Homo sapiens: one gene and its partner. The protein of the gene in region 1 purifies or fractionates together with the protein of each later gene. This does not show direct contact. Each region holds a gene or a part of one and is shown on either strand. Other genes may lie near its edges. The genes, in order: ANKK1 and PRR14L.

Region 1 (3,819 bases):
GTGGCTCACGCTTGTAATCCCAGCACTTTGAGAGGCCAAGGCTGGTGGATCACCTGAGGTCAGGCAAGACCAGCCTGACCAATATGGTGAAACTCCATCTCTACTAAAAATACATAAATTAGCTGGGCGTGGTGGTGGGCACCTGTAGTCCCAGCTACTCAGGAGGTTGAGATAGGAGAATTGCTTGAACCCAGGAGGCAGAGGTTGCAGTGAGCCAAGATCATGCCATTGCACTCCAGCCTGGGCAACAAAAGTGAGACTTGGTCTCAAAAAAAAAAAAAAACAAAGCAAAAAAAAGGCATGGAGGAGATGCATTCATTCCAAGCACTACGTGAAAAAAACAAAGTCCTTGCCCTCATGAAGCTTATAGTCTAAAGGAGGAAGACAAAATAAATAGCAAATGAATAATAAACTTTTTAGCTATAGCACTCATGACCACCTGACAGTTCTTGATTAAAATATCTAAGAAGGGTTGAGAAGTCTGATTTTCCAAGAAATGGGTTGGTCTAAAAATATTAATGCCAGGGCCCTCTGTGTATGGGGAATATAAGAGTTGGAATGGGGTTGCTTTTTTATGTAGACTTCTCTGTGAAATCCATACTAATTAGGTACCATTTGAGTAGAGATTTGAAGGAAATGAAGGGGTAATCCATGTGGCTCTGTTAGGGAGGAGTGTTCTAGGCAGAGAGAACAACAGGTGCAAAGGTCCTGAGGTGGGACCACACTGGGCATGGTGGAGGAACAGTGGGAAGCCCGTGTGCCAGGGGCACAATGAGAGGAGGGTGATTAGGAAAGGAGGTCAGCAAGCTATGCCTGGCATTGGGGACAAATCTTGTAGGACTTTCTCAGCCATGAAAGAACTTTGGCTTTTACTGTGAATGAGGAGAGCCATTGGAGAAGGGCAGTGACATGTTGTGACTTAGATTTTAAAATATGACTTTGGCTGCTGGGTTGAGAATAGATTGTGGAGAGGAAGCGGGAGAAACAGAGTCCAATTAGGAGGCTTGGGCTGAGATGCACCTTGGGGGAGAGGTGGTGAGAAGTGGTCAGCTTGTTGCTCGACAGTATTTTGAAGGTGGTGCTGGCAGGATTTGCGAAGACTTGGCTGTGGGAAGTGAGAGGAAGAAAGGAGTCGAAGATGACACCAGGGTCCTATTCTGAGGACTAGAAGGACAGAGGCCCCATTCACTGAAATGATGAAAACTAAAGGAAGAGCAGGTTTCAGGGGAAAATCAGGAGGTTAGCTTCAGACACATTTGGTATTGAATATCCAATTGGAGATGATGAGGTTGACTATAGAAAGATTATAGAGGGAGAAGAGCAGAGAAGAAGGGCTTGGACTAAGCCCCGTGGTCAAGTAACAGGATATGAGCCTGCAAAGAAAACAGAGAGGAAGTGACCAGACAAGTAGGAGAAAAGCAGGAGAATGTTGACACGTGGCTCAAGTAACGAAGTTTCAAGAAAAAGAGTCAGAGATCTGAACTATACACTGAGAACTGAAAATTATTGGTTAGATATAGCAACATAGAGGCTGTTGGTGACCTTAGCCACAGGTGTTCAGGGGAGTGCAGGTACCAGAAACTAGACAAAAGTGGGTGCAGCAAGATGATGAAGAGGAGAGACAGCAGTAAATGCTCTCAAGACTTCTGGGTAGGAAGCTATGAAAGAACTGTGCAAGGTAGTTACAATTATTCCCAGTTTTTAGTTTAGAAACTGAGGCCCAGAGGATTCCCTTGCCCAAGGTCATACAGATAATAACGGGTGAAACTGGGATTTGAAATCAGGGCAGTGTGATTCCCACATCCCATGCTTTTTTCCATGCCATGGCAGATGTCATTGGTTCCTGTGAACCCAAGAGGATGAGAGAAGACAGATTAAAAATATCACAGAGGTGGAGAAGGGATCTCTGGCACAAGTGAACAAGAATAGGAGAAACCTACACTAGCCAACATGTCCAGATGCCAGGAAGAGCATGTGGTTTTTCCTGAAGGTTGGGGCTCTCCAGCTGGCTTCCCAGGGAGACCCCGGGAGCACATTGCCAGCAGTCTCTGACTACAGCACCATCACAGTTTTGCAAATACTGTGCTCTCAAATATGTCATTTCTCCTTAATCCCCATCCCTGCAATCCCAAAATAATCTATAACAATTTTCATATTTACTGTTCTGTGGGCACATACAGTGAAATGAGCAACAGGGTTTGCAAATGCTTATTTTGTAAGGCCTTCCCTTAAGTTTCGACTTCTGTTCCAATTCAACAAAGATGTATTGTGCAATGCATGGCAATGCACTTTGGGAATTATAGAGATGAATAATTACAGTTCATCCATAAAATGGAATAGTGTGCAGCCACTAAAGATCATGCTTTGGAAGAACAGCAGTGTGGGGAAGTGCTCGTGCTCCACATACTATGTGATCCAAAAGGAGAGAGCAGAAAGAAGGAGTGAAAGAGAGGGAGAAAGGGAAAGAGATACCTTGAAGGTGGATAGTAAAAGGATATACTAAAATATCAACAGAGGCTAGCTCTGGAAGGTTGCATCCCTGGTAACTTATTTTTCTTTTATATAGCTCTCTATATTCCCTATGTTTCCTACAAGGTATATGTATTACTTCCATAATTTAAATGGTAATAAATGATGTTTTGAAGCAGAAGCATGAGGCATCATGTTGGTCCTCTGGGGGCTCAAAATCTACTAGGGGAGATAAACATAGAAACAAGCAACTAGAATAAAGGGCAAACTGTGATACCTGCTTTTTTGTGGCCACCTTTGCAGAATGGACTGGCTCCTAAACCTGCAAACTCCTTTACTTCCTGCCTTGTTGCTGCTGTACTGAAATCTAAGCGGCCTGCTAAGTATTGCTTCATGTCTCTCTTTCCTCTTCCACTACCTTGCAAGCTCCTGAGGCTTCTGTGGGTCCCCACAGTCTGGCATCATGGCTAGTTTATGTGTTCAGCTGGTTGCTGTAGTAATGAATGGGTCACCCCCTTCCATATCTTGCTCCCCCTCTCCATAGCTCTGATGTGAATTACCTCATTGAAGAAGCTGCCAAAATGAAGAAGATCAAGTTTCAGCACATCGTGTCTATCTACGGGGTGTGCAAGCAGCCCCTGGGTATTGTGATGGAGTTTATGGCCAACGGCTCCCTGGAGAAGGTGCTGTCCACCCACAGCCTCTGCTGGAAGCTCAGGTTCCGCATCATCCATGAGACCAGCTTGGCCATGAACTTCCTGCACAGCATTAAGCCGCCTCTGCTCCACCTGGACCTCAAGCCGGGCAACATACTCCTGGACAGCAACATGCATGTCAAAGTAAGGGCTCTGGCCAATCCTCCGCTCCCTTTCACTTGAGGGTTGCCTCCAGGTGAGCAGAATTATCCACCTGCCTGACCGGCCTGTCAAGGGTTTTAAGCAGTTCCCTTCATGGACAAATTCTAAAGGCAGGGATCACACTGCAATAGAGATGGCTAAGCAGTGAAATTTGGGGCATAAGGCTGGGTATCAGGATGCCTATAATAACCCTCTTTGGACTCAGTTTCCCATTTCTAAATTGGATAGAATAATCTCTATTTCCCTGCACTTTCTTTTATTTGGATGGAGACGTGTGTAAATGAGACAATCCCTAAGAAAGGTTGTAATGGACATTCTTTCACTTCCTAAAACTCTTTTTTGCCCCAGGACCTTTGCAGCTTCTGTTTCCCCACTCCCCTCTATTTACCTAGCGAAGGTCTACTCACTATTCAGCTTAACCATCACCTCCTCAGGGAGCTCTTCCCTGATCTACTCCAGTAGGTCCCCATTATATGCCTTCACTGTACCTCTG
Region 2 (3,819 bases), on another chromosome or scaffold:
CTTTGGGAGGCCAAGGTGGGTGGATCACTTGAGGTCAGGAGTTCCAGACCAGAATGGCCAACATGGTGAAACCCTGTCTCTACTAAAAATCCAAAAAATTAGCTGGGCATGTTGGCGAACGCCTGTAATCCCAGCTACTTGGGAGGCTGAGGCAGGAGAATCGCTTGAACCTGGAAGGCGGAGGCTGCAGTGACCTGAGATGGGGCCACTGCACTCCAGACTGGGTGACACAGTGAGACCCTGCCTCGAAAAAAAAAAAAAAGAACCTGACCTTGACCCCAACCTTTCTTTCAATTCCTAACCTACATTTCACTTGCAAGAATGGCACCCCCAAAACTTACCAAGTTTAAAACAGAATTCATTCAATCTATTGAATAACTGAGTCTTTGAGTCTTTCTACACGCAAACAGCTTTGAGAAACAGGTATAAATAAGACGCCCTCAGCAAACTTACATGCTCATTCATTAAAAAAAAAAAAAAAAAGACAGGGTCTTGCTGTGTCGCCCAGGCTGGAGTGTGGTGGTGCGATCATAGCTCACTATAACCTTGAACTCCTTCTGCCTCAGCATGCCTGGTTAATTTTTTTTTTTTTTTTGGGATGGAGTTTCGCTCTTGTTGCCCAGGCTGGAGTGCAACAGTGCGATCTTAGCTCACCACAATCTCCACCTCCCAGGTTCAAGAGATTCTCCCGCCCCAGCCTCCTGAGTAGCTGGGATTACAGGCATTTGCCACCACACCCAGCTAATTTTGTATTTTTTAATAGAGATGGGGTTTCTCTATGTTGGTCAGGCTGATCTCAAACTCCCAACCTCAGGTGATCAGTCCGCCTTGGTCTCCCAAAGTGCTGGGATTACAGGCGTGAGCCACTATGCCCGGCCTACTTTTTTATTTTTGTAGATAATTTTGTATGTCTTGTTATGTTGCCCAGGCTGGTCTCAAACTCCTGGGTTCAAGCAATCCTCCCACCTCAGCCTCCCAAAAGTGCTGGAATTACAAGCGTGAGCCACTGTGACTAGCCACATGCTGATTCTTAATCCTGTTGCTTCTCAGAAAAGGCACCATCAATATTCTAGAGCTTAGATTTGAATCCCCAGCCATAACCATATCTGACTTCCCCTCACCATTCAATCAGCACTTGCAGCCTGTGGACTCAACTCCCTGCAGTGTTTCTAGTAAATCATATTCATTTCCATCCCCACAGTTCTAGCTCAACATTTGTTCCAAATGTTGCTCCACATACGGTCATACACAAATACAGGTTTACTAAACAGATCTTTATCATAAACAGTGAATACTGATAATCACATAAAATGGTTCACCTCTTGATACTCTTGTTTGGACCAAATTCTAAGAATTTCAACCTGTAAAACAACTAGGCACATTGGCTAGAGAACCAAAACAGACACCCCCTCCTTTTTCTCCTGGACTAATTCTGGGTCCTCAAATTTCTGAACAGAATTGCAGATACGTTACCAAGAACAGCTGGAACCCTAAGAGGTGAGGTGATATTAAATGCAAGCCTAGAGTGGCAGGTTAAACATGGCCGGGTGCTTTGGCTCACGCCTGTAATCCCAGCACTTTGGGAGGACAAGGCAGGCGGATCACGAGGTCAGGAGATCGAGACCATCCTGGCTAACACAGTGAAACCCTGTCTCTACTAAAAATACAAAAAATTAGCCGGGTGTGGTGAGGGGCGCCTGTAGTCCCAGCTACTCGGGAGGCTGAGGCAGGAGAATGGCATGAACCTGGGAGGCAGAGTTTGCAGTGAGCGGAGATTGTGCCACTGCACTCCAGCCTGGGCGACAGAGCGAGACTCCGTCTCAAAAAATAAAAAATAAAAAATAAAAATAAACTTATTTTCAGCTCAGTAGCTCACACCATCTATCAAAATATTGGTAATGCCACAAGACTGCAGTGACAGAACCCGATTTTGAGAAGACATTCAAGTTCTTTAAATTCCTGAATGCAATGGAGCAATCTAAAAGGATGATGTAGAAATACATCTCTACAGCCGGGCGTGGTGGCTCATGCCTGTAATACCAGCACTTTGGGAGGCTGAGGCGGGTAGATCACTTGAGGTCAGGAGTTCAAGACCAGCCTGGCCAACATGGTGAAACCCTATCTCTACTAAAAAATGCAAAAATTAGCTGGGCGTGGTGGCAGGAGCCTGTAATCTCAGCTACTTGGGAGGCTAAGGCACGAGAATCGCTTGAACCTGGGAGGCAGAGGTTGCAGCGAGCAGAGATCGCGCCATTGCACTTCAGCCTGGGTGAGAGGGAGACTCAGTTTAAAAAAAAAAAAAAAAAAATATATATATATATATAAGCCAAGTATCACAGTGTTACCTTGGACAATAGGATCACCAATGACTTATCTGTATGTTGAACTTTTTTTTTTGGAGATAGGGTCTCTGTGGCCCAGGCTGGAATGCAGTGGCTTGATCACAGCTCTCTATAACTTCAAACTCTGGACTCAAGCAATCCTCCTGCCTCAGCCTCCTAAGCAGCCAGGACTACAGGCGCGAGGCAGTGAACCCAGCAAATATTTTTATTTCTTGTAGAGACAAGGTCTCACTACATTGCACAGGCTGGTCTTGAGCTCCTGGCCTCAAGTGATCCTCCCACCTCGGCCTCCCAGAGTGAGCTGCTGCACCCAGCCTTGTACTTATTTTTCAAAACAGTGAGTATATATTACATATGTTAAAATGTTGTCTAACCATTATTTCTCAAGATCTAAACACACAGCAATAAAAACAGCTGATAAGTGTATTTTCAGTATTTTTTATCAGTATGTTTTATCAGTATTTTTCCAGCTGTCAGCTCTCTGCCTTAACCACCAATGCTTTTACATTAAAGTGTTAAATGTGAAGTAAAAGGGAAGAGTGAGTAACACATGCTTATAAAATGTAGACAGGGATTTACAGCTTAATCTTTGCTAATGACTTATAATCAACCTATTGGGTGAGGATACCAGATAATTACCTAGTTTGAGGTATAAGCAAAAAATAAACCATAGATTTATGAACGACTTTTGACAGCTGCTACTGGCTTGTCGTCTTTATCACAACACAAATAAGTACTATATTAGAATGTGTAGGGAATGGATTTATTCCCAAAAACTGACTAATACTTACAGGAAGTATGAAAATTATTATTCCAGTAAAAGTAGAAATTCTTTTACGTTGAGGACAATTATTTCATGTTCTTTCTTTGCAAACGCACAAATACTTCTCCCAGCAGTCTTTTTTTTTTTTTTTTTTTGAGACGGAGTCTCACTCTGTTGCTCAGGCTGGAGCGCAGTGGCGCGATCTTGGCTCACTGCAAGCTCTGCCTCCCGGGTTCATGCCATTCTCCTGCCTCAGCCTCCCAAGTAGCTGGGACTACAGGTGCCCGCCACCACGCCTGGCTAATTTTTTTATTTTTTTTATTTTTAGTAGAGACGGGGTTTCACTGAGTTAGCCAGGATGGTCTTGATCTCCTGACCTTGTGATCCGCCCGCCTCGGCCTCCCAAAGTGCTGGGATTACAGGTGTGAGCCACCGCGCCTGACCCTCTCCCAGGAGTCTTTTTTTTTTGAGACAGAGTTTCACTCTTGTTTCCCAGGCTGGAGTGCAACAGCATGATCTCGGCTCACCGCAACCTCTGCCTCCCAGGTTCAAGCGATTCTCCTGCCTCAGCCTTCCTAGTAGCTGGGATTACAGGCATGTGCCACCATGCCCACCTAATTTGTTTTGTATTTTTAGTAAAGATGGAGTTTCTCCATGTTGGTCAGGCTGGTCTCAAACTCCCGACCTCAGGTGATCCACCCGCCTCGGCCTCCC

Evidence for each region.
Region 2: the proteins of ANKK1 (region 1) and PRR14L purify together in Homo sapiens (affinity purification with mass spectrometry; one large-scale study listed by BioGRID and IntAct). This does not show direct contact.

Annotation. Positions count from the first base shown.
Region 1 is NC_000011.10:113,390,468-113,394,286, forward strand, and holds part of ANKK1 (ankyrin repeat and protein kinase domain-containing protein 1), read left to right. Parts: intron 1-3,013; coding exon 3,014-3,308; intron 3,309-3,819.
Region 2 is NC_000022.11:31,743,555-31,747,373, forward strand, and holds part of PRR14L (protein PRR14L), read right to left. Parts: intron 1-3,819.